Regions from separate parts of the Homo sapiens genome. Here region 1 is linked to region 2. Evidence: fine-mapped expression QTL. A gene starts in region 2. The other region holds a variant in brackets. All regions are shown on one strand. Distances are between the middles of the regions.

The links.
Region 1: its variant is fine-mapped to the expression of RNASE1 in whole blood (INTERVAL, PIP 0.94).

What each region holds. Positions count from the first base shown.
Region 1 is chr14:20,701,849-20,717,671 of GRCh38, forward strand. EGILA (EGFR interacting lncRNA) reads right to left here and starts at 5,093. Exons shown (of 4, transcript NR_174964.1): 1 at 4,899-5,093. It overlaps LOC124903282 (a long non-coding RNA gene), which reads right to left and starts at 13,875. Exons shown (of 2, transcript XR_007064061.1): 1 at 11,233-13,875; 2 at 7,945-9,870. The variant T/C (reference allele first, on the strand shown) is at 9,006.
Region 2 is chr14:20,794,973-20,807,100 of GRCh38, forward strand. RNASE1 (ribonuclease A family member 1, pancreatic) reads right to left here and starts at 7,872. Exons shown (of 2, transcript NM_002933.5): 1 at 7,825-7,872; 2 at 6,256-7,121. The coding sequence starts at 7,096. The coding sequence ends at 6,626. LOC107984671 (a long non-coding RNA gene) reads right to left here and starts at 5,557. Exons shown (of 3, transcript XR_001750624.2): 1 at 4,932-5,557. The region is part of intron 3 of LOC105370397 (a long non-coding RNA gene); the gene reads left to right.

The DNA of each region.
Region 1 (15,823 bases), 91 kb before region 2:
CTTAAAACCTCTTCAACTCACACCTGACCTAAAACCTAAATGCCTTATTTTCTTCTGCAATACCGTTTGGCCCTAATACAAACCCAACAATGGTTCCAAATGGCCAGAAAACGGCACTTTTGATTTCTCCATCTTACAAGATCTAGATGATTTTTGTCGAAAAATGGGGAAATAGTCTGAGGTGCCTGACATCCAGGCATTCTTTTACACATCAGTCCCTCCCTAGTCTCTGCTCCCAATGTGACTTGTCCCAAATCTTTCTTCTTTCTCTCCTGTCTGTTTCTTCAGTCTCCACCCCAAGCTCTGAGTCCTTTGAATTCTCCTTTTCTACAGACCCATCTGACCTCTTCCCTCCTCCCCAGGCTGCTGCTCACCAGCCAGGCCAAGCCAGGTCCTGATTCTTCCTCACCCTCTGCTCCCCCACCCTATAATCCTTTTATCACCTCCCCTCCTCACACCTGGTCCAGCTTACAGTTTCATTCCATGACTAGCTCTCCCCAACCTGCCCAAAAATTTCCTCTTAAAGAGGTGGCTGGAGCTGAAGGTACAGTCAAGGTTAATGCTCCTTTTTCTTTATCCAACCTCTCCCAAATGAGTTAGCATTTAGGCTTTTTTTTTTTTTTTTTTATCAAATATAAAAACCCAGCCCAGTTCATGGCCCATTTGGCAACAACCCTTAGACACTTTACTGTCCTAGACCCAGAGAGGCCAGAAGGCCGTCTTATTCTCAATATGCATTTTATTAGTCAATCCACTCCTGACATTAACAAAGCTCCAAAAATTAGATTCTGGCCCTCAAACCCCACAACAGGACTTAATTAACCTCGCCTTCAAGGTGTACAATAATAGAGAAGAGGCAGCCAAGTGGCAACATATTTCTGAGTTGCAATTACTTGCCTCCACTATGAGAGAAGCCCCAGCCACATCTCCAGCACACAAGAACTTCAAAATGCCTGAACTGCAGTGGCCAGGTGTTCCTCCAGGACCTCCTCCCCCAGGATCTTGCTTCAAGTGCTAGAAATCTGGCCACTGGGCCAAGGAATGCCTGCAGCCCGGGATTCCTCCTAAGCCATGTCCCATCTGTGCGGGACCCCACTGGAAACCGGACTGTCCAACTCGCCCAGCAGCCACTCCCAGAGCCCCTGGAATTCTGGCCCAAGGCTCTCTGACTGACTCCTTCCCAGATCTTCTTGGCTTAGTGGCTGAAGACTGACGTGGCTCAATTATCTCAGAAGCCTCCTGGACCATCACAGATGCTTTCGGTAACTCTTACAGTGGAGGGTAAGTCCATCCCCTTCTTGATCAATATGGAGGCCACCCACTCCACATTACCTTCTTTTCAAGGGCCTGTTTCTCTTGCCTCCATAACTGTTGTGCATATTGATGGCCAGGCTTTTAAAACTCCCCAACTCTGGTGCCAACTTGGACAACATTTTTTATGCACTCCTTTTTAGTTATCCCCACCTGCCCACCTCCCTTATTAGGTTGAGACATTTTAACTAAATTATCTGCTTCCCTGACTATTCCTGGGCTACAGTCACACCTATTCCCACCCTTTTCCCCAGTTCACATACTCCTCTTCTGTCTCCCTACCTTAATCCACAAGTATAGGATACCTGTGCTCCTTCCTTGGTGACCGATCATGCACCCCTTACCATCCCTTTAAAACCTAATCACCCTTACTCCTCTCAATGCCAGTATGCCATCCCACAACAGGCTTTGAGGGGACTAAAGCCTGTTATCACTTGCCTGTTACAGCATGGCCTTTTAAAGCCTACAAGCTCTCCTTACAATTCTCCCATTTTACTTGTCCAAAAACTGGACAAGCCTTACAGGTTAGTTCAGGATCTGCACCTTATCAACCAAATTGTTTTGCCTATCCACTCTGTGGTGCCCAACCCGTACACCCTTTTGTCCTCAATAAATTCCTCCACAGCTCACTATTCTGTTCTTGATCTTAAAGATGCTTTTTTCACTATTCCCCTGCACCTGTCATCCCAGCCTCTCTTTGCTTTTACCTGGACTGATCCTGACACCCATCAGCCTCAGCAACTTACCTGGGCTGTACTGCCACAAGGCTTCAGGGACAGCCCCCATTACTTCAGTCAAGCCCTTTCTCATGATCTACTTTCTTTCTGTCCATCTGCTTCTCACCTTATTCAATATTTTGATGACCTTCTACTTTATAGCCCCTCCTACAAATCTTCTCAACGGGACACCCTCCTGTTCCTCCAATATCTGTTCTCAAAAGGATATCATGTATCCCCCTCCAAAGCCCAAATTTCTTCCTCATCTGTTACCTATCTCAGCATAATTCTTCATGAAAACACACGTGCTCTCCTTGCTGATTGTGTCCAGCTGATCTCTCAAACCCCAGTCCCCACCACCAAACAACAACTCCTTTCCTTCTTAGGCACTGTTGGATATTTCCGATTCTGGATATCAGGCGTCGCTATCCTGACGAAACCACTTTACAAGCTCAGAAAGGGCAACTTAACTGATCCCATGGACCCTAAGTCTTTTCCCCATTCTTCTTTTCACTCTCTCAAAAACGCCCTGGAGACCGCTTCCACACTAGCACTCCCCGACTCGTCCCATTCTTTTTCCTTACACACAGCTGAAATACAAGGCTGTGCTGCCAGAGTCCTCACACAGGAGCCAGGCCCGTGACCTGCTGCCTTTCTATCAAAACAACTTGACCTCCCAATTCTGGGGTGGCCCTCATGTGTGCATGCAGCAGCAGCCACAGCTTTAATACTTCTGGAAGCCCTCAAAATTACAAGCTATGCTCCACTTACTCTCTACTGTTCCTGTAACTTTCCAAATCTATTCTCCTCCTCACGCTTGACACGTATACTTTCTGTGCCCCAGCTCCTTCAACTGTACTCACTATTTGTTGAGTCTCCCACAATTACCATTGTTCCTAGTCCAGACTTCAATCCAGCCTCTCATCTTATTCCTGATACTGCATCTGAGCCCCATGACTGTATCCCTCTAATCCACGTGGCATTCTCCCCTTTTCCCCATATTTTCCTCTTTCCTGTTCCCTACCCAGACCACACTTGGTTTATTGATGGTAGTTCTTCCAGGTCCAATCGCCAATCACTGGCAAAGGCAGGCTATGCTATAGTATCTTCCACATCTATCATTGAGGCTACAGGCCTGCCCCCTTCTGCTACCTCTCAACAAGCTGAAATCATTGCCTTAACTCGAGCCCTCATTCTTGCAAAGGAACTACGTGTCAATATCTATACCAATTCCAGGTATGCCTTCCACATCCTTCACCACCATGCTGTTATATGGGCAGAAAGAAGTTTCCTCACTACACAAGGGTCCTCCATCATTAATGCCTCCTTAATAAAACCTCTTCTTAAAGCTGCTCTACTTCCAAGAAAACTGAGGCCATTCACTGTAAAGGCCAACAAAAGGCATCAGATCCCATCACTCAGGGCAATGCTTATGCTAATAAGGTAGCTAAACAAGCAGCTGGCGTTTCAACTTCTGTCCCTCATGGCCAGTTTTTCTCTTTCTCATCTTTTCACTTTACATTTCCAGTTTCGCCTTACACAAGGTCTCTTCTTCCCCTGTGGCTCCTCCCCTACATGTGTCTACCTGTTAATTAGACAGGCACATGCACACTAGTTTTCCTTACCCCCAAAAATCAACTTGCAAATGGGACCCAAGAGCTTCCTGTTCCCCTCATGACACCAACACTTCACTACTATTTTGTTTTGTTTTTCTTATTATTAATATAAGAAGACAGGAATATGCCCTTGACTTACTCACTGCTGAAAAAGGGGGACTCTGTATATTTTTAAATGAAGAGTGTTGTTTCTACCAAAATCACTCTGGCCTAGTATATGACAACATAAAAAAAACTCAAGGATAGCGCCCAAAAACTCACCAACCAAGCAAATAATTATGCTGAACCCCCTTAGGCACTCTCTAATTGGATGTCCTGAGCCCTCCCAATTTTTAGTCCTTTAATACATGCTTTTCTCCTTCTCTTATTTAGACCTTGTGTCTTCTGATCAGTTTCTCAATTCATACAAAACTGCATTCAGGCCATCATCAATCATTCTGTATGACAAATGCTCCTTCTAACAACCCCACAATATCACCCTTGATGCCCAAATCTTTCTTCAGTTTAATCTCTCCCACCCTAGGTTCCCATGCTGCCCCTAATCCCACTTGAAGCAGCCCTGAGAAACATTGCCCATTATCTCTCCATACCACCCCCCAAAATTTTTGCCGCTCCAACACCTCACCACTATTTTGTTTTGTTTTTCTTATTAATATAAGAAGACAGGAAATGTCAGACCTCTGAGCCCAAGCCTGCAAGTATACATCCAGATGGCCTGAAGCAACTGAAGAACCACAAAAGAAGTGAAAATAGCCAGTTCCTGCCTTAACTGATGACATTCCACCATTGTGATTTGTTCCTGCCCCACCTTAACTGATCAATTAACCTTGTGACATTCCTTCTCCTAGACAATGAGTCTCAGAACCTCCCCACTGAGCACCTTGTAACCCCTGCCCCTGCCTGCAAGAGAATAACCCACTTTGACTGTAATTTTCCACTACCTACCCAAATCTTATAAAACTGCCCCACCCCATCTCCCTTTGCTGACTCCTTTTTCGGACTCAGTCTGCCTGCACCCAGGTGATTAAAAAGCTTTATAGCTCACACAAAGCCTGTTTGGTGGTCTCTTCACATGGACGCACATGACAGGAGCAGAGATATATGAAGATGCTAGCTGCTTAAGAAGGGAAGTGTGAGTGTGTGTGTGTGTGTGTGTGTGTGTGTGTGTGCACATGTTTAAGGGCAAAACTGACAAAACTGAAAACATTTGAATTACAGCAGATACAGAAAGAAATCTTACCTGAACTTCTCTCACCTGACTAAAGCAGAGCCTCCCAGAAATGCCCCCACCATTATCTCCCTCCGGAGGGGTCCTCATGTAATGGTAATAGGTCTTTTGCCTGATGTGCACAGCATGTCAATATGCCAAGACACTGGGTTGCAGCAGAGAAAGAGGTTTAATTGCAGGGCTGCTGAACCAAAAGATGGAAGGAAACCTCAAATCCATTTCCTCAAAGAGTTTGAGGCTGTTGTTTTTAAGGATTTGGAGTAGGTGGAAATAAGAGATCACTAATTGGTTGAAGAATGCAGAGTGAAGTCATGGGACAGAGAGATGAAAAAACAGTATTCTCATGCTGATCAGTTCATCAGTTGGGCTCTTTAAAGTTGGTGGTGTCAGCTGTTCTGCCGGAATTCAGGATCTGCATAAACAATTCTTAAACAAAAGCCTTATGATTCTAATGTCAAAGATCTTATCTATGGGAACAATGAGAATGCAAATTATCAGTAGCTAGTGTTCGTGAGTTTTGGTTACAAGGAAGTGGGTCAAAGTGTAGCCTGATTAACACTTACTCATAATTATATTTTTGTCCAGGATTCTTGTTAACCGTGTGAGGATTACTTCACCCAGACAGGAGATATTCCAAGAAAATTGTGTAAAACTTTATCCAAAGCTTCTATTTGTCTTTCCCAAAAGTCATTTGTTTTCCTATAGAAGTCATTTCTCCCTCCTTCTTTTCCCCTATGAGTTGATAACTAAACTTCTGTCTCTAGCTCTTCATCAAGCCTCTTCATCTGAATGCTTCCACAAGTTATGAATACAACTTGTTTTCTTTCCCCCTGCTAACCTGTCTATAGTTAATTCACAGGCTCCCACCCACTGAACCAAAGTTGGTAGAGGGAAAGTTTTCCCTCCTAATAGCATGTCTGTGTATATTTAGAGTGAGAAAGAAGGATGAAGAGATAATTCGTCTTTGTCACCATCCAGGTAGTCATGGGAGTTGGGACCTGTGGTATAATAAAAAATAAATTTGAACTTAGTTCCTGGTTCCTGCCACAGACCTTCTAAAATGCTTGGAATTTCCTGAGTGATAGTGTAACCAAACTAAGGGTCAGCTGATCACTGCTCACTGCTCAAAAGCAAGACTTGCAAGACAAGAGTTGGTGCAGGAAAAGCAGGTTTATTCAAGAGCTAGCAACCTGAGGAGATGGTGGACTAGCGCCTCAAAGACTATTTCAAAATTTTAGGCTAGCTAAAGGGATTTTAAGAAGTAGGAGGCATGGAAACTATGAGCAGGAGTGGTGCAGGGTGCAGGTTTGCATGTCTTACTCTGATGGCTATCTTCAGTAACGGATCACCTGGAGGTCTGGCTGGCATCACCATGACTGCAACTAGCTTATGGATTAACCCCCCTCAGTGATTTTTCTGAGAATGTAGGATTCCACAATCTCAAATTCATGCCCGGTTTATTTCAAGATTAGCCCCTGGGTTTCTTAAGCAAGGATACGGCTAGATACTGAATAAATCAAAGGGTGAGGCTATTCATTATTGAAGCAGGCTGATTATTCCAGCTACAAACTCCCCACTGCCAATTCCTGTTTCATTTCTATGGGAGATCAGGTGTCAATTTCTTTCTAGCTACTTCCTGCTGAATGAGGGCATCACTAGGGAGCTGAAGAATGGAATTTATTTACCTGGAGTTGGAAGTATTCATGCATTCCTTGACTTATGGAAGTGATTTTTTACAGCATCATTGACCTGGGAGTTAGGAGCCTTTCCAATTAAGGAAAACACAATCTTGCAATATCACACATATGGTGCAACAAGAGTATAACCCATAGAGAATATACCTATTCCTATAATCATAGCTGGAACTACTAGCAGTTTTTTCCACCAAGTAGGTCCGTATCCAAACCATGAAGATAACCACTGGTTTAGGAACATTGTGGGGTCAGACATAGCATTGATTTGTCTGTGCACGTCTTGAAGGGCTAAGGAGATGTTTCGCAAATTACCTAGGATATACACAAAACATTTAGTTTCAATTATGGGTCAAGGTCCCTCCCAGCAGCTGTGAGTACATCAAGGGCCATGTGGTTTTGCAAGACTACTTTTCCCATCATAGTCATTTCAGAGGTTACTAATGAGATGCCCTTAAATGTGTCTTTCAGCACTTGCTATAATTTGTAAGTGCCTCAATATGCCAGATGATGCTTTCTAAGCCTGCTTGGGGGAAAACAAGGGACAGGAGATGGTCGTAGGAAGGGAAAACCGGCCTGGTCCATTGGTGTAACACATCTGGAAAGTGTGCAGGCTGCCTGGTGGTTTTTGTTAATCAGCCCCGGACCTATGGGGGTCCTAACGTGCACTGCCCTATCCATCCATCAGGTAGACATGGCCGAAGATTAGTTTCACATAACTATTGAGTTCCACTGGGGACCAGCCACCAAATTTTGGGTCTGTGTCCAATCAGTGGTAAACAGGTTTGTCTAATATAGCACTAAAGAATGTTCATATTGATGTAGAGGCATCCTATCCACATTTTTAGTAACATTCGGCCAATGATTCTAAGAGTGATTCCTTTGTTCCCAACATGAAGTGGCAATTTGGGTTAAGTGACTAATAGTGGAGATCATCCAGAGGTAATCGTCCCAAATTTGATAAAAACTCACCTACCGTGTAATGGTTATTAGTAGCCAAAATCTTGGGGGCCATCTAGGAAAACTCCTTTAAGAGAGGGATTGCATACTCAGAGGTCCTTTGGATAGTCCGGTTATAATGAAGAGTTTTCCAGGATCTGGATTCTGAAGCGTTATATTAATGCCAGGCCATTTTTAAAAAATATTACCTTAAGTTACCAAGGTCCTGATTTTCCCATGAACAGTTTTTCATATACGTTTGTAAATGTATCTAATCAGTCCCCTGCAGGGGTGATACTCACTAAAGTAGCCCAGAAGTGCTAGAGATGGGTAGCAATCCACATACCCAGCAAGCATCTTAGTGTAGACTATCTGCATAATGTTATGCCCACTGTAGAAATAGACTAGTTTTAGCAGATGTCAAAAAAGTTTACTCATTATGATAAAGAATAACAGAAATTTAATCCTATAGTACAAAAAGATTTTTCTTAAGCAGTAGCTTCAGTTCTCCAGTTGGCTCACAAGTCCAACCAGGTTGATTGTCTGCTGTGTCAGGTTGGGGAGGGGCGATTTTTACCGAAATGTGATGTATGCGTGGTTTGACTCCAGCCAGCTTAACAGATGAATGAGTAGTTAATAAAACATCATAATGACCTGTCCACTTTTTGGCTGGCTGTTGTTGGTCCAGTCCTTGTTTTTACCAAGATTTTAGCGGCACTTTATCCTTGGATGAAAAGGGTGAAGGGGCTTTTTTGTAAGACACATAAAACTGGAAAGAACAAAAAGAACAAACTTGTGCAGGGTTAGTGATTTATGTCTTAGTTGTTGTACATATTGTTTAATTCTTGATTAATTTATTAAGTCCAAGGGTGGGGTCCCTGGCCAAGAACTTCAGAAGGGTCTCCCACACACAATTTCAAAAAGGCTTAATTTAAGCCCACTTCAGGGTGCTACCCCAATCCATAGCAGGGCAATAGGTAAAACCCTTTACCATTTTAAATCTGTTTCCCGATAGAGTTTTGCCAGGGGTTTTTTTTGGTTTTTTTGTTTGTTTGTTTTGTTTTGTTTTTGTTTTTGTTTTTGTTTTTTAGCATGTGGATCATCTTTTCAGTCTTTCCAGTTGATTGTGGCCTCCAACAAGAGTGTCATTTCCATTTGATCTGTAATGCTTGGCTTATCCTTTGTGTGATCTCAGAAATTAAAGAAGGATTATTGTTGCTTGGTATGGAGTAAGGAAGTCCAAATCGAGGAATGATTTCTTTTAGCAGAGCCTTAGCTACTTCTGCAGCTTTCTCAGACTTGTTCGGATAGGCTTCAATCTCTTGCTCGGGTAAGCTTCAACCTTTCCAGAAAATGTGTCTACAAACACTAGTAGGTACTTATAAATCCCAGTGTTTTTGGCATCTGGGTGAAATCAACCTGCCAGTCCTCGAATGGTCATATTCCTTTGTATTGTATCCTCCTCTGGGAAGAGTTGCATGCAGTTCTTGAATCATTTGGGGTA[T/C]ATAGATAACATGCTTGTATAATCTTTTGAATGATCTTTTGAAGGTGTGGCCCTTTGAGATATGGCTACACCAGGTGAGCCAGTCCATCTCTGCCATAGTGTGTCCCCTCATGCAGGTCTTTCAGGACTGGGTATACCAGGGCCTCAGAGAGTAATATCCCATGAGTGTTAGCTTTCCATGAGGAACAAGGGTCTGTGTTGGTCAATGTCCACTCATGTGTGCATTCTTCATTTCATTCAGTGTAGTGGAGTTTAAATTCTGACAAGTTTAAATGGAGTATTAAGGTCCCAAGTAAATATGTTTCTTGAGTGGCCTGCTTTGCAGCTTTATCAGCCACTTGATTCCCTTTGGTTATTGGGGAGTCATCCTTTTGGTGGCCTTGGCAGTGCATAATAGCAACTTGAGTTGGCAGAACAACTGCCTCTGACAAAGCTAAAATTTCCAGCAGGTGTTTAATGTCTTTATTTCTTGAGGTTAAGAATCCCCTTTCTTTCTGAATGACCCCACGGGCATACACTACCAAGAAGGCATACTTGGAGTAGGTGTAAATGTTTACCCATTTCTCTTGAGACTGTTTTAAGGCCCTGATGAGAGCAATCCATTCAGCTTTTTGTGCTGAAGTACCAGCAGCGGGGACATAGGCTTCTACTACTTTGTCTAGGGTCACTGGAGCATACCTGGCCTGGCGTTGTCCTCCTTCTGTGAAACTGCTTCAGTCAGTGTATAGCTCCCAGTCCGGAGTGGCCATCAGATGATCTGACAGATCTGGTCTGCTGGAATAGACTGCATCAAGAATTTCTAAACAATTATGCTCCAGTTCATAGTTGGACTCAGTGGCTGGGAGCAAGGTGGCAGGATTCAAGACTGTGGTGGTTTGGAGAAAACATTTCTGTTATCTAATAGGCTGGCTTGGTATTTGCCCATATGCCCCGCTATCATCCAGTAACCTCCCTTTTGTTACAATAAGGTTAACACTTGATAAGGCACAAATGCAGTAATGGGCTGTCCTAGGGTGAATTTTTCTGCTTCCTGTAAGATATCACACGTAGCTGCCACGGCCTGAAGACAAGGTGGCCATCCTCTGGTAATCTGCTCCAGTTGTTTGGGAAAGTAGGCTATGGGTTGTGGGGAATTCCCACGTAGTTGAATTAGTATTTCCTGTCCTGTGCCCTGGTTTTCATGGATATAGAGTCTAAATAGCTTTCAAGAATTGGGCAGTCCTAATGCTGGAGCTGACACTATTTTTTTTTTTTTTTTTGATGGTATCAAATGCCTGAAGGCATTCAGCCATCCAGTTTAGGGCTCCTGAATCTAATCCCTTTAGAGCCTTGTAGAGAGGTTTGACTATGAGTCCAAAATTAGGGATTCAGATTCAGCAGAAACCTGCCACACCTAAAACCCCCCACAGTGTCTTCCATTCCCAGGGGCCTTTATTGCTGCTATCACCTGTTTCTGGTTGGACATCAAGCTCTGCTTTCCTTGTTTTTAGTCAGAAGCCAAGATAGGTCACTTCTTGTTTACAAATCTGAGTTTTCTGAGGTGATATGTTACGTCCGTATTATATCAAATAATTTAAGATTAAGATAGTGTTAGATAGGCACCTCTCATAGTCTTGGCTTGCGATTAACAAGTCATCCAAGTATTTTAGCAGAACCCCATCATCTAGTTGAAAATCTCTGAAGCCCTTTGCCAATATTTTGCCAAAGATGGTGGGTGAGTTTTTAAAACCTTAAGAAAATACAGCCTAACAATATTGGAAGGTGTTTTTTGTTTCCAGGTCTTGCCACTCAAAGGTGAACAGCATCTGGTCCCTCTCTTCAATCAGGATGCAAAAAAAAAAAAAAAAAAAAAAGTATCTTTTAAGTCTAATACCGAAAACTACCCATACTGCCCTGGTTTATCAGTTAGTAAGGTGTAAAGGATGGGCATAGTTGGGTGAATGTCTTGAACAATGTCATTAATGGTTCCCAAATCTTGTACAAATCAATATTCATTTGAGTGTGGGTTTTTAACAGTCAGGATAGGGGCATTGTATGGAGATCTGTAAGGACATATTTGTCCATTTTTTAGAAACTTCTGTAATATAGGTTGTATCCCCTCTAAAGCCTCTCTTTTTAGAGGGCACTGTGTTTGGGGAATACCTTAGCCCCTTCATTTATTTCTGTGCACACAGGCTGTGTATTTTCAGCACTACCTGTGGTCCCATCTGCCCTCATGACTACTTACTTGCTCACAGATTGCTGGCAGGAGGCATTCTTTTTCTTCCTCGGGGTGTGTGAGCAGCATCTGCAGCTGCAAAGCTTGCTCTGGCAGGACCTGCAGATGAAGTTGTTGTTTTTCTGGAGAAAAACGTCACATGGCAATTTAGTTTACAAAGCAAATCTCACTCCAGCAAAGGAATTTGGTATTCCAGCATATAGAGGAAACTGTGTCTCAGCTCCAGATCTCTGTGTCCGGCAGTCTCCAGACTCTCCAGGGTCTGGAGAAAGGCTGTTTGCTGCATCTTGCCAGCGACAACCATCACAGGCACTGTTTTCCTAGTACTTTCAGTTTCTTTAGTGTTTCTACCTGAATAAGTCACACCAGTATTGATTAAAAAGTCAATCAATTTGTTCCCCATTGTCAATCGTACCTGAGGTTCCTGTGGGGAAATTACAACCTGCTCCAAAAGATTTGGGCCTCCTTCACTATCTGAGCTACAGTCCTGCTTTACCATCAGCCAGTATGTTTCTTCTCTGTCACTGTGTCTCCCTTCTTCTGGTTTCCCTGTCTTTTCTTTAATTTGGGGCACTCAGATTTCCAATGACCTTCCTCCTTGCAGGGGGCAGACTGATCATTACCTAGAGTTTTGTTCTGGCCACCTCCCTGTGCCTGGTTTTTCCTTTTCGGATATACATTCTTTCCACTAATTCCAAGTATATCATGGCTTGCTTTAGCTTTTTGGCCTTCCTGGCATTATATACTCTGAAGGCAATGTCCAGCAGTTGGGAAAGGTTTATTCCAAATACCCCCTCCAGTTTCTGCAGTTTTCGTTTAATATTGGATGAAAGTCACGTTTACCATTCTCATATTCTCAGGAGCTTCTGGATCATAGTCCATACACTTGTGGTAAACCTGGTAAATGCACTCCAGAAATTCACAGGGGTTCTCATCTGCCTTTGGGAGAACTGCCCTGGCTTTATTTAAGCTCTTTTACATTCTTCTCTTTAACCCTGCCAACACATGCTTTTTATAATGACTGGACAGGGCCATTCCTCCATTGTTGGGGTCCCAAGTAAAATCTGCAAGTGGAGCAGCCATTTCTATTCCTTCCCCATCCTGGGGAGAGGAGCTGACACCTTGGCCTCTCCGGGTCCTGGGCTACATTTGGTAATCCTGGGAGGGCTGGTGCCCCCAGTACCACATGGGAGGGGAAATTTAAGATATTTATGAGGCCCATATCATCAATATCCTCTTCCTTTTGGGTCTTACTATCTGGAAAGAGAAATCTCTTTTTCCCTTTTCTCTACGTCATTCACATAGACCCCTCATGTGCTGAGTCTTTGTTATGTAATAAATGCTTAAACACATGGAATCTCATTTCATTTCCCAGATCTTAGGCAAAATAACGCCAACTGTAATAAGGTGTACTAATGTAAATCACTGTTCAGTAGCCACCATTTTTCAGATTCCAACACATACATAGGCCAAACAGTGTTACAATGAAAAAAAATCATTATCTTTTTTGTTATGAGTTCATAGCTATAAGCTTTCCAATAAGCCAATATACAGCCCAATGGCCACTTAGATGGAATGGAAGTCAAGTTGCCCATTCTCAGGGGAGAGATCAAAAGAACACAAACACACAGATCAACACAGAGTACTCCTGAACCAATTCCTGTAGAAGGAGACTGGGAAGTTAATAAATCTTAGGCTAACTGATACTGCAAAAGACCTGTGTCAGGTCCAAATGGCATAAAGCCCAAATGGCAGAGACAGAGGATTTCTAGCATGCAAACTGGTTTGATTTACCCAGTCTTGAATCCTGTCAACTTCCTCAACTATCATTTTCCTTATACTAATAAAGCATTGCAGGCAGCTGATGCCACAGAGGGGGAAGGAGGGAAAAGATGTTCTTGGCAGCTGCTGGGACAACCCTAGAATCCCAGCTGGGAGGTCAGCTAGCCACGAGCAGCTAATCCTCATGAGAAGTTGTTGCTCTGCCTGGTAGCATGAATGAGTAAGCCCTGGCATGATGCCACAGCCAATTGCTCCATCCATCGGAAACCAGGCACGCTAGACCAGTAGAGACATATAGCCCCATGCTGGGTGATAAAAAATGTAACCAAACTGTTGGAAGTAAGTGCTCGGTGCCACAGAGTGAAAATAGCACTCAGGCAAAAATTTTCTCAGCAAAGCAATTTACTTCTATAGAAGGGTGCATCTCTCAGATGGAGCAATGGTGAGAGCACACCAGACAAGGGAGGAGAAGGGCGTCTTATTCCTAATGCAGCTAGTCCCTACTGCTGTGTCTTTCCCCTGTTGGCTAGGGTTGGACCACACAGTCTAAGCTAATTCCAGTTGGAAATTTTAAAGAGAGTGAGTGTATGAGCTGGAGTGGTGGGGTGAGTAGTTTCATCAGGGAAGGACAGTTACAGAACAGGAGAGTAAGGATGCCTAAGGACAGAACAGGTGATAGAGGCTAGGAGGGGGTTGTTTACTGAAACTAGAGGCAAGGAGGTGTAAAGAACAAGGAAGTTAAACTTCAAAATGGAGAACAAAGAACAGGGAAGCTGAACATACTGACGTATTTGTTCTTTGAAGAGGAACTCAGAACTCATTGTACTTAAATGATTTTTTTCTCCCTCTTGAATTTTTTTTTTTTTTTGAGATGGAGTCTTGCTCTGTCACCCAGGCTGGAGTGCAGTGGTGCAATCTAGGCTCACTGCAAGCTCCGCCTCCTGGGTTCACGCCATTCTCCTGCCTCAGCCTCCTGAGTAGCTGGGATTACAGGCACCCGCCACCACGCCCGGCTGATTTTTTTGTATTTTTTAGTAGAGACAGGGTTTCACCATGTTAGCCAGGATGGTCTCAATCTCCTGACCTCATGTTCTGCCTGCCTTGGCCTCCCAAAGTGCTGGGATTACAGGCATGAGCCACCACGCCCAGCCACCATCTTGAATTTTAAAGGAAGTTAACAGGCTAACTCTGAAGAGGAATTTACTGTATCCTACAATCTCCCCCCTTTCAATTTTCATAGGCCTTCCTCTTCAAACCTTTTTAACATGTCTTGGCTTTGCTGCTTGACTTGATCCTCTAAAAGAAGAAAGCTTTTCTGAATAAGGTGGAGGAAAGTTAAGGGAGGTTTTAGTAGGTGCTGTTTCTTTGCACTGCCCCACGGACGCATGGTATGACACAATACCCAACAAGAATGAGTACACCTATTACGGCTGCAAGAGAAGTAAGAATCGAGGCTATGATCTTTTCCATCTACTGAACCACCTTTCTAGCCATCCTGAGAAAGGGTTATTGACTCCAGAATCTTTAACTAATTCATTGGATAAAGCAGTAAGTCCTTGTAAGACCCTTGTTATGCTCCCAGTGGGGGCAGTGTTGCTTGGGATAAAGGTACAGCCCTGAGTTTTAATCATAACACCAACACTGCCTTTTTCAGCTAATATCACATCTAGGGCCATTCTGTTTTCCCAGGCCATCTGGCTAGTGGGCCCCAATTGTTCTGCTATCCCTTTGACAGCATCCCTGGTGTAATTAATAAACCACTGCTAATTATAATAGACGTAATTTATCCAATCTATGTTTTTATTAATTGTCACCCACAAAATCCTGCAGCTATTTAATCTTGACTCAAATCCTGCAGCTATTTAATCTTGATCTTTAAATTTATCTGGTACTCCTCATGGGACTCCAATTGCATCTAAATAAATGTGGGAGTTGAAAGACCCATAAGGAGCTTCCCTTGTTTTATGATGTTGTATTTTTCCTCTCTCTGGTTGATGAAATGCTAGGGTGGAAGGGATAGCCAATTAAACTAGAGCACAAGTGCTGCTCCAGTTACTTGGCAGAGAGTCCAGTAAAGGTCCACCACAATACCACCATACATATGCTTGGGGATGAACAAGGGCTGACTGATTGGTAAGCTCTTGGAAAGTCTTAAGCTCACTGCATCTTTTTAGGTCTCCAAGGAATGCTAAGTTTCCTCCCTGTAGTGAGAGATATGAAGTGAACTTAGCGTCAGGGGACAGAAGCTGAGTGGACCTTGGGGGCTGACCTGCAGGGTATTGAACCTCAGGATATAGCAGAGAGAGCTTGACACGACTTTTTACCCCAGGCTGTGTAATCCTGGAAAAAAGTAACCATACAGCCCATGCCTAGTAGACTAAAGGACTATCCTAATGGAAAGGGGACAATCTGGGCTTCTGGTCTGCCGTGCGCACAAGCATAACAAATGCTTTTGTTTAAAGTGTGGATGGAATGTTTGATCCACTCCAACCAGGCATTAGCATCTTGATATTCTGTCTCAATTGCCAAAGTTTGTTTTAGGTCTTTAACTTCTATAATAACTACCTTGGTCTTGTCATTAGATGGAGGAGAACAACAGTTTTGTTGTGAGAGCTTCTGGAAGAAGGCTTAAGGGAAGGTGTAGGCGGCAGAGGATCAATGAATTGTGTTTCAAAGGATCTGATAGGGTCTGTTCCTGAAACCTCAGCCCCCACACCATAAAACCGGCTTAAAGAAGGGAACCGGCTTAGAGAAGGGGAAGAGCTTTGAGGGTTTGAGATAATAACCTGTATTGGATTGCACGGTTCAGCTGACAGCT
Region 2 (12,128 bases):
GTTGTTGTTTGTTTGTTTTTCTGAGATAGAGTCTCACTCTGTCACCCGGGCTGGAGTGCAGCTGTGCAATCTTGACTCACTGCAATCTCTGCCTCCTGGGTTTAAGTGATTCTTGTGCCTCAGCTTCCCAAGTGGCTGGGATTACAGCTGTGCCACCAAACCCAGCTAATTTTTTTTTTTTTTTTTTTTTTTTTTAGTAGAGACGGGGTTTCACCATTTTGTCTAGGCTGGTGTGGAACTCCTGGCCTCAAGTGATCCGCCCACCTTGGCCACCCAAAGTGTTTAGATTACAGGCGTGAGCCACTGCACCCAGGCTTGTCAGGGTTTCTTTAACATTAGTGACTCCGTTTTGATTCTGACAACTTTCACAAAACTTTCTCTTAATTGTACTTTCTTATCATCACCCAATTTTTTATATATTGTATATATTTTAATTTTTTTCTTTTGATTTCTTCTTTGACCCAAATGTTACTTAGAAAATGTTATGTTAGGCTGGGCGCAGTACTTCGCACCTATAATCCCAGCATTTTGGGAGGCTAAGGCGGGTGGATCACCTGAGGTCAGGAGTTTGAGACCAGCCTGGCCAACTTGGTGAAACTCCATCTCTACTAAAACCACAAAAATTAGCTGGGCATAGTGGTGTGTGCCTGTAGTCCCAGCTACTCAGGAGGCTGAGGCAGGAGAATCTCTTGAATCCAGGAGGTGGAGGTTACAGTGAGCCAACATCATGCCACTGCACCCCAGCCTGAGAGACAGAGCAACTCAAAAAAAAAAAAGAAAATGTTATGTTACATTTCATGTGTATATATACGCACGTGTATATATACTCACGTGTGTATATATATACACGTGTGTATATATACACACACATATATAATATAATATATATAATATAATATATATAATTTATATATGTGTGTGTATATATATACACACACATATACACACATACACACATACATACATATATGTGTATATATATAATATATATATACATATATATATAGTGGCAATGGCGCAATCTCAGCTCACTGCAACCTCTGCCTCCTGGGTTCAAGCAATTCTCCTGCCTCAGCCTCCCAAGTAACTGAGATTACAGGCATGTGCCACCACGCCCAGCTAATTTTTGTATTTTTAATAAAGACGGGGTTTTGCCATGTTGGTCAGGCTGGTCTCAAGCTCCTGACCTCAGGTGATCCACCTGCCTCGGCCTCCCAAAGTGCTGGGATTACAGGTGTGAGCCACCATACCCAGCCTGTATCTTAGTTTTAACAAAAAAGTTTAAAAATTTTTTTAAATAGAAAAAAAAAACAGATAAGCCTGAGCAACATGGTGAGACCCTGTCTCTACAAAATATACAAAACTTAGCTGGCATGGTGACACATGCCTGTAGTTCCAGCTACTCAGGAGGCTGAGGTGGGGAGGCAGAGGTTGCCGTGAGCCAAGATTGTGCCACTGCTCTCCAGCCTGGGCAAGAGAGCGAGATCCTGTCTCAAAAAAAAAAAAAAGAAGAAGAAGAAAAAAGCTATAGAATAAGGATACAAAGAAAACATTTTTGTACAGCTGTATAATGTGTTTTAAGCTACGTGTTATTATAAAAGAGTCAAAATTTTTTTTATTTAAAAATGTATAAAGTTTAAAAGTTAAAGTAAGCTAAGGTTAATTTATTATTGAAGAAAGAAAATTTTTTCATAAGTTCAGTGTGCCCTAATGATACAGTGTTTATAAAGTCTACAGTAGTGCACAGCAATGTCCTAGGCCTGCACAATCACTCACCACTCACCCACTGACTCACCCAGAGCAACTTTTAATTTTTTTTTTTTTTTTTGAGACCGAATCTTGCTCTGTCACCCAGGCTGGAGTGCAGTGGCACGATCTCGGCTCACTGCAACCTCTGCCTCCCAGGTTCAAGTGATTCTCCTGCCCCAGCCTCCTGAGTAGCTGGGATTACAGGCACATGCCACCATGCCTGGCTAATTTTTGTATTTTTAGTAGAGACGGGGTTTTGCCATGTTGTCCAGGCTGGTTTCGAACTCCTGACCTCATGATCCACCCGCCTCGGCCTCCCAAAGTGCTGGGATTACAGGCGTGAGCCACTGCACCTGGCCGTAGCTTCTAATTCTATAAGCTCCACACATAAGTGTCTTACAGAGGTGTACCATTTCTTACCTTTTATACCATATTTTTACTGTAACTTATCTATGTTTATGTACACAAATATTTACCATTGTGTTACAATTGCCTATAGTATTCAGTACAGTAAACTGCTGAACAGGTTTGTAACCTAGGAGCAATAGGTTATACCATATAGCCTAGATGTAGAGCAAGCTATACTGCCTAGTTTTAGGTAATATAGTCTGTAAGGTTCCCAACAATGATGAAGTCACTCAATGACACATTGTATCCCCATCATTCAGCAACACATGACTGTACTTGGTGTATACACTGGTTTTATACTCACTCTTTTGAGAGTCGGTTCTTGAAATCAAGTTTAGGCCTTTCTACTGTCTCTGCCTGATCTTCTGTGCTTTCTAGATCTCTGGTTATCCCCTCTCTTGGGATGATAGAATTCATACTCCTGTGAGTTCCAGTACTAATGTTCCTGGCCCCTCTTTCATCTGAGGCCCTCAAACAAACAAAAATCATATGTTGGCACCTTGAATTATAAATACAGAAAACTGTAGTGAGACATTGTCAATTCTGTCCCCAGTCTTGATTGGTTGCATGCAAGTGATAGAATAGGATGTATGATTCTTGATTCTAAGAGTAATAGCTTTTATTATGGACAGACATTGTCCTAAATATTTTTTATATGTGACCTCAACTAATCCTCAACAAATCTCTGAAGTTGATACCATGTTTATCATGATATTTTACATAGGGAACCTGATGTTAAAAAAGTTACGTTCCCTGCCTGCGGCCACACTACTCCCAAAAGGCACAGTGGAGTGTGAAACAGGTCTGTTTCACTCCAGAGCCAAGGCTCTGAAACACCATACCCCATGCCTCGGTGATAGTGGCTAACTTTCTGAGTGTCCACAGAACGCTGAACACTACGCTTTCTCTGAATGTCATCTTTACCACAGTACTTCTAATTAAGTGTTATGAATATTTCCATTTTACAGAAGTCCCACAGGCACTTGGAGTTGTTATCCTGTCTCAGGTTTTTAAAATCCAGGCTAGACCCATAAAAAATAAGCCAATCTTTGTAACTACTGCACTCCTTCCAACCTCCATTCATTCACTCCTTCTTTCACAAATGCTAGAAAAATGTTCCTTTGACTTAAGAATGTGTATGTCCAGACATTCCCTGGATTTTAAAAGGGCAGATTTTTTTTTTGGTAGAATAGTATATCCGTCTCTCTATGTTCATTAATAGTGCATTGGGAATTTCTGAATTGAACCATATTCCAAGAGTAACTGAGAACATGAACACTCATGAACCGAGAACATGAACTGAGAACATGAAAGCTCAGCTGATGGCAGGGGAGAAGTTGCAGAGGAAGCGTGAGGGCTGTTGCACACTAACTAGCTGGAGGTACACAACTGACCAAGCATGCACGAAGGCTGCCTCGCTTCACATCTTGCCAAGGGCTTTCATGCCCCTACTTTTTCTTTTCCCCTTACAGCAGCCTCAGAAGGGACGCAGGGCCAGTTCCCTAAGACCTGTTAACGGTTTCTAAAGTCCCTCCACTCCATCCAGCTGTCCCAGGAAGAAGTAGATGTTCATTTGTCCCCACAGACACTTCTATTCACCCCACAGCCACCCCATCCCCACCACCGTGGCATCTAATTTAGACCAGCCCGCCATAGGGATGTGTCAGGGCAGCTACGGATGCAATCCAAGAGAAGTGGAAGAATTGGTTAAAGGGTGTATTCATTTCCTAGGGCTGCCATAACAAAATGGGCGGCTCAAACGATAGAAATGCATTTATTTATTTATTTATTTTTTAAAATTTTGAGACAGGGTCTCATTGTTGCCCAGGCTGGAGCGCAGCCTCGACCCCCAAGGCTCAAGTGATCCTCCATCTCAGCCTCCCGAGTAGCTGGGACTATAGGTGTTTGCAACCTTGCCTGGCTAATTTTTTAATATTTTTTTGTAGAGACGGGGGTCTCACTATGTTGCCCAGGCTGCTCTTGAACTCCTGAGCTCAAGCAATCCTCCTGCCTCAGCCTCCCAAAGTGCTGGGGTTACAGGCGTGAGGCAGCATGCCCAGCCAGAAATTCATTTTCTCACTGGAGGCCAGAAGTTCAAGAACACGGTATGGCAGGTTTGGTTTCTCCTGCTTCCTCCTTCCTTGTTCTGCAGTGAGCAGGTCTATGCCAATGTACCCCCAAGGGCTGAGGGAGATGAGAGGCCAAAGAAAGGGCTTGACTGAAGTAGGAAACTAAGAAAATAACAAATAATAGCATACGTAATAATAATAAGAGAAATAACAATAGCTCATAGAATGAATTGCTGTATTAACCAAGGCTGAAAAGAATTTAAGTAGCCCCCCTGAAGTTAAAGTTAGAAGAGAATATTAACTGTCTGTCCCAAGAAACGTTAACCATATCTATCCTCCACATATTTTGTAGGCTCTGTAAACTCCTGTTTCTTTCTTCCCTGCACAGCTGCAAGGTCACAAGACAGATAAGCATAAGCTGCAAACCAAGTTCTCACAGAGATGTAAGACATGTTCCAAAAGTGTCACAGCGGCCTTTTGTTCTCACTTCTGTAAGCCTGCTTCACTTAGTTCCTGCCTCAAAATGCTTAAAAGGGACTCATTTTCTTTGTTCTTGGGCTCAGCCTTTTAGGACACAAGTCCGCTGGGCCAGTGTACACCTTAAAATAAACACCCTCCTGCACGCCATCTGGTCTCTCTGGTTCCTTAAATCCCACTTCATGACAAGTTCAGTTTCTCAGAAAGAAACATTTAATAGGGACTTACAAATAGAAGCCATGTCTCAGGCAGCCACAAGACAGTGGATCTCCGCACAGGCCCTGCAGAAAGTATTCTTTATATGGCAAGCTTCCCCACCCCCCACCCTGTGAGATGGAATCTTGCTCTGTCACTCAGGCTGGAATGCAGTGGCGCGATGTCGGCTCACTGCAACCTCTGCCTCCCAGGTTAAGTGTTGACAGATGCCAAAGGTAGTCTTTCAGTGGCTGTCAGGAAGGGTTGCCAAGAGTGGAGTGGACTCACAGGCTAAGAACACTGGGAGCCTGTGAGAGCCCACCAGCAAGCTCTGGGAGAGAGCTACCGCTCCACAGCACTTACTGAGGAGGGGAGCTTTCTTCCTGAGTTAGAGCAATGGCTTCCTGAGTTAGAACAATGGCTTGGAAGTCAGGAAACCTAGGGTGTAGTCCCGGCTGTGCCACTAACTAGCAACAAGCCATGTGCAAGTCACCGGAAAGGCAGGGGTCACATTTGGTCAGGGATGGCAAATGTGTGGCACACACACCCTTCCCCCTCTCGTGCCTTCGATAGAGGCTGTTGTTCAACCACACCACTGTCCAGAATTTTTTGCTACAGCATTTTGGGTAGGCACTTCCTTTTTTTTTTTTTTGAAACAGAGTTTCACTCTTATTGCCCAGGCTGGAGTGAAGTGGCACCATCTCAGCTCACTGCAACCTCCGCCTCCCAGGTTCAAGTGATTCTCCTGCCTCAGCCTCCCTAGTAGCTGGATTACAGGCACCTGCCACCACGCCCCACTACTTTTTGTATTTTTAGTAGAGAGGGGGTTTCACCATACTGGTCAGGCTGGTCTTGAACTCCTGACCTCAGGTGATCCACCTGCCTCAACCTCCCAAAGTGCTGGAATTATAGGTGTGAGCCACCACGCCCGACCGGCACTTCCAATTAGAGTTGGTACACAAACTGAAATCTACTTGCTATCCCTCAATTCCGTGCTCTCCAAAGTCACTTCTGGCTCTAAAATGTAAGGTTCTGGCTTTCCAACTAAGAGGTGCCCATTTTTCTGATTTAGTAATAGCTCACTCAAAAAAAAAAAAGGAAAATGGAAATTTAGGATCATAATTTCATTGAGTCCTCTTCCCCACCCTGAGGCTAAGCAGGATCTTCCTGAGGTCACACTTGCCTTCCTTCTGTGCCAGAGAATGATTGTATTTGAGCTTCACCCCTCTGTCAGTTCACCCTGCATGGCAGTGTCCCAGGCTGTAGCTCCCTTTTGTCTAAAACAGCCCACACTTAACAGTTTTATGTTTGGCATCAGGGAATCTACAAGGAAAGGAATTTTCTCAAGCCACTAAAATCCAAGTCAGAAGGGAAGGCATTTAATTACTCCATTCACCGTTCTCCAAAGTGAATCAGATTTACAGTTCTTACCCCTTGCTGGAAGGCAATGCCAGAAACAGTACCTAGACAGAACCGCTTCAGAAATCAGGTGTTTGCAACTGCGTTTTATTGAAAGAAAGAGTGGAGGGGTTAACATGGGGCCCACCTCACAACCCACTCTTCACCCCCAAAATCACGCAGGGATGGGACTCAGGAAAGGGAAGCATGTGTGTGTTGAATAGGAGCCCTAACTGTAGTTACTTCTTTCACAGCAGGGAAGGAAGAGGGAAGAGGCAGCTGTGGAGAGGATGAGGTTGAGGGAGGTGGGGTATCTCGCTGCTCTGACCTTAGGTAGAGTCCTCCACAGAAGCATCAAAGTGGACTGGCACATATGGGCTCCCTTCACAGGCCACAATGATGTGTCTCTCCTTCGGGCTGGTCCGGTATGCACAGTTGGGGTACCTGGAGCCGTTTGTCAGGCGGCAGTCTGTGATGTGCATGCTGGAGTTGCTCTTGTAGCAGTTGCCCTGCCCGTTCTTGCAGGTGACCTTTTCCTGGAAACAGACATTCTGGACATCTACCAGGGGCTCGTGCACAAAGGTGTTCACTGGTTTGCACCGCCCCTGTGTCATATTCCGGCGCCTCATCATTTGGTTACAGTAGGTGGAGCTGCTGCTGGGGGAACTGTCTGAGTCCATATGCTGCCGCTGGAATTTCTTGGCCCGGGATTCCTTGCCCAGGGAAGGCTGGACCCAGCCCAGCACCAGCAGTATCAGGACAAGCAGAAGGAGCCGGACAAGAGACTTCTCCAGAGCCATGGTGGCCTCACTTTCCCAGAAAAGCCTAATTGAGAAAAGGAGAGAGAAGGAAAAGAGCCCTCTTAGAAAAAGAACTCCAGCTCCCACCTATGGCTTGCCTGGTTTACACTTTCTGTTTCAGGTCAGCCAGAAAGACGTCCATCCTACTTCCTGAGGTTTTTCGTGTAATGAGACACTCACGTGTACCCTTTTCCACGAGCGTTTTATTCCCACTCTCCAAAGCGAGGTCTTCCTCCCCTCTAGGTGGTGACCTACAAAGTGACCTAAAATCCTGTCAGTTCCTATCTTTGAATACTGGAGTTTCTTTGATCCAAAATACATTTGTACCCAGTGCTCAAATGGCTCATCGAAACATCAGTTTGAATAAATCATGAACCAAATTGTATCCCCGACATCCAGGGCCATGGGTGACAGAGCCTTGTTGTCTTGGAGCATAAGGGAACTCAGGCCAGTGCCTGACACTGGCATCATAAAAGATTCCATTGTATTCCAGAGAGAAACGCTGGCCTCCCCCAATTTGGAGGCTCCTTCTTCTCCAGTCCCATGGATGCTCTGCAGCCTGCACGTTCCACCCTGACCCCTCTGCCCCCAGCTGATGTTTGCCTGGGCCACATTTTTTCAGCGCTAGCATCACCCAATCTTTCTCAGTGCTGTGGACTGGCCCTAGCTCCCTCTTCTGCAACCCTGAAGCAGAAGCGGCACCTGAGAACACCTCTTGGGCTGCTTACCTGGATCTGCAGCTTGGTGTCTGAGAGAGATGGAAGGCCAGTTTCTGCAATCACTCAGCTCCCGGGGTGTGGACCTTATACAGATTACAAAGGGGTTTGGCTTCCAAGAGGAAAAGGGTGGGAGGAGCATCTGGAGCTCAGTTCAAATAAAATCAAGGACGTGAGGAAGGAGTGGTGAATCACCCAGGCCGCCGTCTTTCTAGGGCTGCTGAAGAAAGAGCAAATCTTTGCCTACGTTAGTCTTTCTTCCTATGTGAACCACATCTGTCTGCTGATGCACAAGGAGCAGCAGAGAAAGCCACTACAGCACTGGTGCCCAAACCTGGCACACTAGGAACAAAGTCCTTGTTACTTCTTCGTGGGCGTTTTCACCAAGTAGACTTGGAGGTTAACAAAGGACGCAAAGGAGAGGTTCTAATGGGAGATAGGGAATTCTGGCCAAAGCTATTCCAGGGCTCCTAGGGAGCAAAACCCAAGTCTCTTTCTAGGAGGGCATTCTCCCAACGCTACCTCTCCCGGGGATGGGAGGCGGGGTCGGGGGGAATGGAGGCTGTCCTGCTGCCCCCAGCTGGAAGGCTTCCCAGATCTGGAGAAGAAAGGGGGAGTAACTGAATAGGGAGGAGGAGGAGGCCTCTAGGGTGCGCTCACCCAGTTCTGGCCACTTCCCACCCACCCTCCACCCCTGCTCTGGGGGCATCGAGAGGATGGGGCTGTTCTTATCTACAGTAACCACTGACCCTGTAGGTCGGAATTGAGTAGAGGAACTAAAGATAAACTTAAATCCCAAATCTCAAATTCTTTTTGGGGAAAAAATACAAAGAATATCATATTTATTAGCAGCAGAATGCCCTCCTAGAAAGAGACCTGTTTTTTTGCTGAGTAACAATTTGGATACCTCTAAGAATTATCAAAATATCCCTTCGTGCTGTGTATTCAGATTGTTTCAGCCTTTCTGTGTAAAAAGTGGCCATAGTGAAATTATCTGACCTACCTTGTGTGATTGTAGGTCGTAAGATCCTCATTCCAGAGAGGGTCCTGCCCCCCATACCCAGAAAAAAAGGACGAATGCTCAGAGAGGCCAAGAAGAATCTAGACAGGGAGGCCTTGCTGGGTTTCCCCACTCAGTCTATTTTCATTAGATCGCCCTGTTGTCCAGTCATATTTCTACACAGCTGTTCATACTTTGTTGATATCCAAGTGTAAGAATGCCCACTTTCCCCTGTTATCTTTGGGTCTTCTGAAGGCTCCCGTGTCGTGTAAAACTACGATCAAATCAATTTGTATGCGTTTTTTCCTATCAATCTGTCTTTTGTCAGTTGATTTTCAGCAAACCTTTGGAGGGTGAAAGGGGAATTTTTCCTTGGCCCCTACAGTTTCCTTACTCCCCCAGCCCCCACCTGTATTTTATTTTTCTGAGTCTTTAATAATACTTTTATTCTCTTGAATAGTCAAGTTAGAATGTGTTCATTCATTCATTAGACTGTGGGATACAGACATAAATAAGGCACAGGACTCACCTGAAGGGCGCCTGGTGGGATGGTTTGGTTAGTCAGGTGGACCCCACTAAGGCACTGGGCGTGGCTGCACAAAAGTGGCCTCCACCCAGCAAGATGATTTCAGAACCACAGTTCAGATGTGAACAGATCTTCTGTAACTATAATAAGGCTCTTCAACAGCCCCTGGCCCTAGGAATCCTGAAACTACAGGAAGCCATTTTGTCTATTTATGCATAGCAATCTAGACAAGCCCTTGGAGCTTTAATTGCACTTCAATGGGGAACCATCAGAAGCCCTTACTGCAGCCTTATCCTTGACCCAGTTGCAGAGGCATAGCCCCGCTTGTCTTAGGGCAGTAGATGCCATGGCAACATTTGTTGTTGCTTCTGCTGAACTTGTTCTAGACTCCCTGCTTGACCTCCTGGTTTCTCACGCAGCACAGGCATTACACCTGACTGAGAACTCACTGCACACTTCAGGCAGCCGATTAACCTCTTATAAGATTCTATCCCTCTCTCCCTCTCATAAATTACTACTCATCTCTGCAACACACTGAATTCTGCCACCCTCTGTCCCTACCAGAAGGGGAGCCTCTTGATTGTCTTACCTCAGTAGGAAACATTCTGCATGTCAGTCAGATTTATTAGCAACTCCTATTGAGAACCCGGACCTAATATGATTTATTGATGGAACATACCCCAGAATTGAAACTTGAAGTTAGTACACTGAGGAAAGAAAAATCAATTCTTCCTTTACCCTCCTAGAGGGCTGGGGGCCCTGTAAATTAAAATGACAAAAGACAGATTTAACAGGAGAAAAGGCATAAAAATTTAATTTAATATTAATATTCTACATGAATATGGAAGTCTTCATAAAAAAAGAAGTGAAGACTCAAAGAAGCAATTAAACCTGAGAGTTTATAGGCCATTTTGACAAAGAAAATTGTGCAGAAGTGACAAGACAGTGTTCCATGAAAGGGCCACATATGTGAAGTGGCCCCAAATGCTGAAGGAGCCTAGAAACTAAAGAAAGGCAGACAAATTCAGTTTGTCAGTAAAGCGTGTTTTATTCTATTGGGGAACTTATAGCCAGAAGTGTCGTCTTGGGCAGCAGCAAGACATGTAAATCTCAGCACTGTTATTCCCCAGACCCAGAGCTTATATACCATAGGGAAAAGGGGTACGTGCTATATAGAGACAATGAAAGGCAACTCTTCAGAACAGGCAAGAATGCTGTGTTTGTCATAGCCCATAATTTGCATGATAACGTTAAGGTTGTTTTGATCTAAAGGCAGGATTTATAGTGAATACATGTTTCTACACTAGAGACAGTAAATAAAGTAGAAATCAGGAGGCATTCCCGGGACATGGTTAATCAGACGTCAACATGGTAGATTAGCATTCAAGATGGAGTCACTTTTGTCTCTGCACATAGGAAAGGGATTTTGAGCTTCTGGGGAGGTTGCGACAAGCGGACTAGGAAATGTATAGTATATAAGGGTTGTTTAGTAAAGTTTGTTAAGCAAATTCAAGTTGGTTGTCTTCTCCATTGATAAGTCCTCCGTGATTAAGTCCTCCTCTTCCTGGCACAGGAAAGGGAGACATCCATACAAATGGGAATATAAATGGAAATTTCTCTTACAAAAGGGAAACTTGGCTAGGCATAGTGGCTCACTCCTGTAATCCCAGCCCTGTGGGAGGCCAAGGCAGGCAGATTGCTTGAGTTTAGGAGTTTGAGACCAGCCTGGGCAAGGTGGCGAAACCCTTTTTCTACAAAATATACAAAACTAGCCATGCATGGTGGCATGCTCCTGTAGTCTCAGCTACTCAGGGGGATGAGGTGGAAGAACACTGGAGATGGAGGCTGCAGTGAGTCGTGATTGTACCACTGTACTCCAGCCTGGGTGACAGAGAGAGACACTGTTTAAAAAAAAAAAAAGGACATTTATAGTTCTTTCACAGCAGGGAAGGAAGAGGGGAGAGGCAGCTGTGGAAATGATGAGCCCTGTTTTTTGAGTTTTTCCTGCATTTACTGTTTTTCAAAATAATCAACTCAAAATTATTGAGCTGGCATATTCTGGTTCCCTACATTATTAATAGGCTATGCTACCCCTATTTTAAACTCTTCTTAAGAAAAAGTCTACTACCTGCAGTAAAATCAGCCCAGATAGCAAAATGTATTGCATTTACTAGAATTTGTCACCTAAACAAAGACCAGAGAGCAAACATATATACAGACTGCAGGTATGCTTTTGAAATAGCATATGATTTTGAGATGCTTTGAAAATAGGCATTAGAAGACCAGGCATGGTGGCTCGTACCTGTAATCCCAGCACTTTGGGAGGCTGAGGCGGGTGGATCACCTGAGGTTGGGAGTTCGAGACCAACCTGACCAGCATGGAGAAACCCTGTCTCTATTAAACATACAAAATTAGCCGGGCATGGTGGCACATGCCTGTAATCCCAGCCACTCAGGAAGGCTGAGGCAGGAGAATCGCTTGAACCCAGGAGGCAGAGGTTGCGGTGAGCCGAGATCGTGCCATTGTACTCCAGCCTGGGCAACAAGAGCAAAAACTCCGTCTCAAAAAGAAAAGAAAAGAAAAGAAAATAGGCATTAGAAATGGACAGCAAGTTAAGGAACTTTCAGATGCACCCCCACTTCCTAGAGAAGTGGCTATTATATAGGTAGAGGTCCATATAAAAAGAGACAATATGGAAACTAAAGGAAATTCTCTAGCAGATCATTATGCCAAAGAAGCTACTTTAACCAAGCTTATGACTCTATCTATACCTTTAAAGGATAAATCTC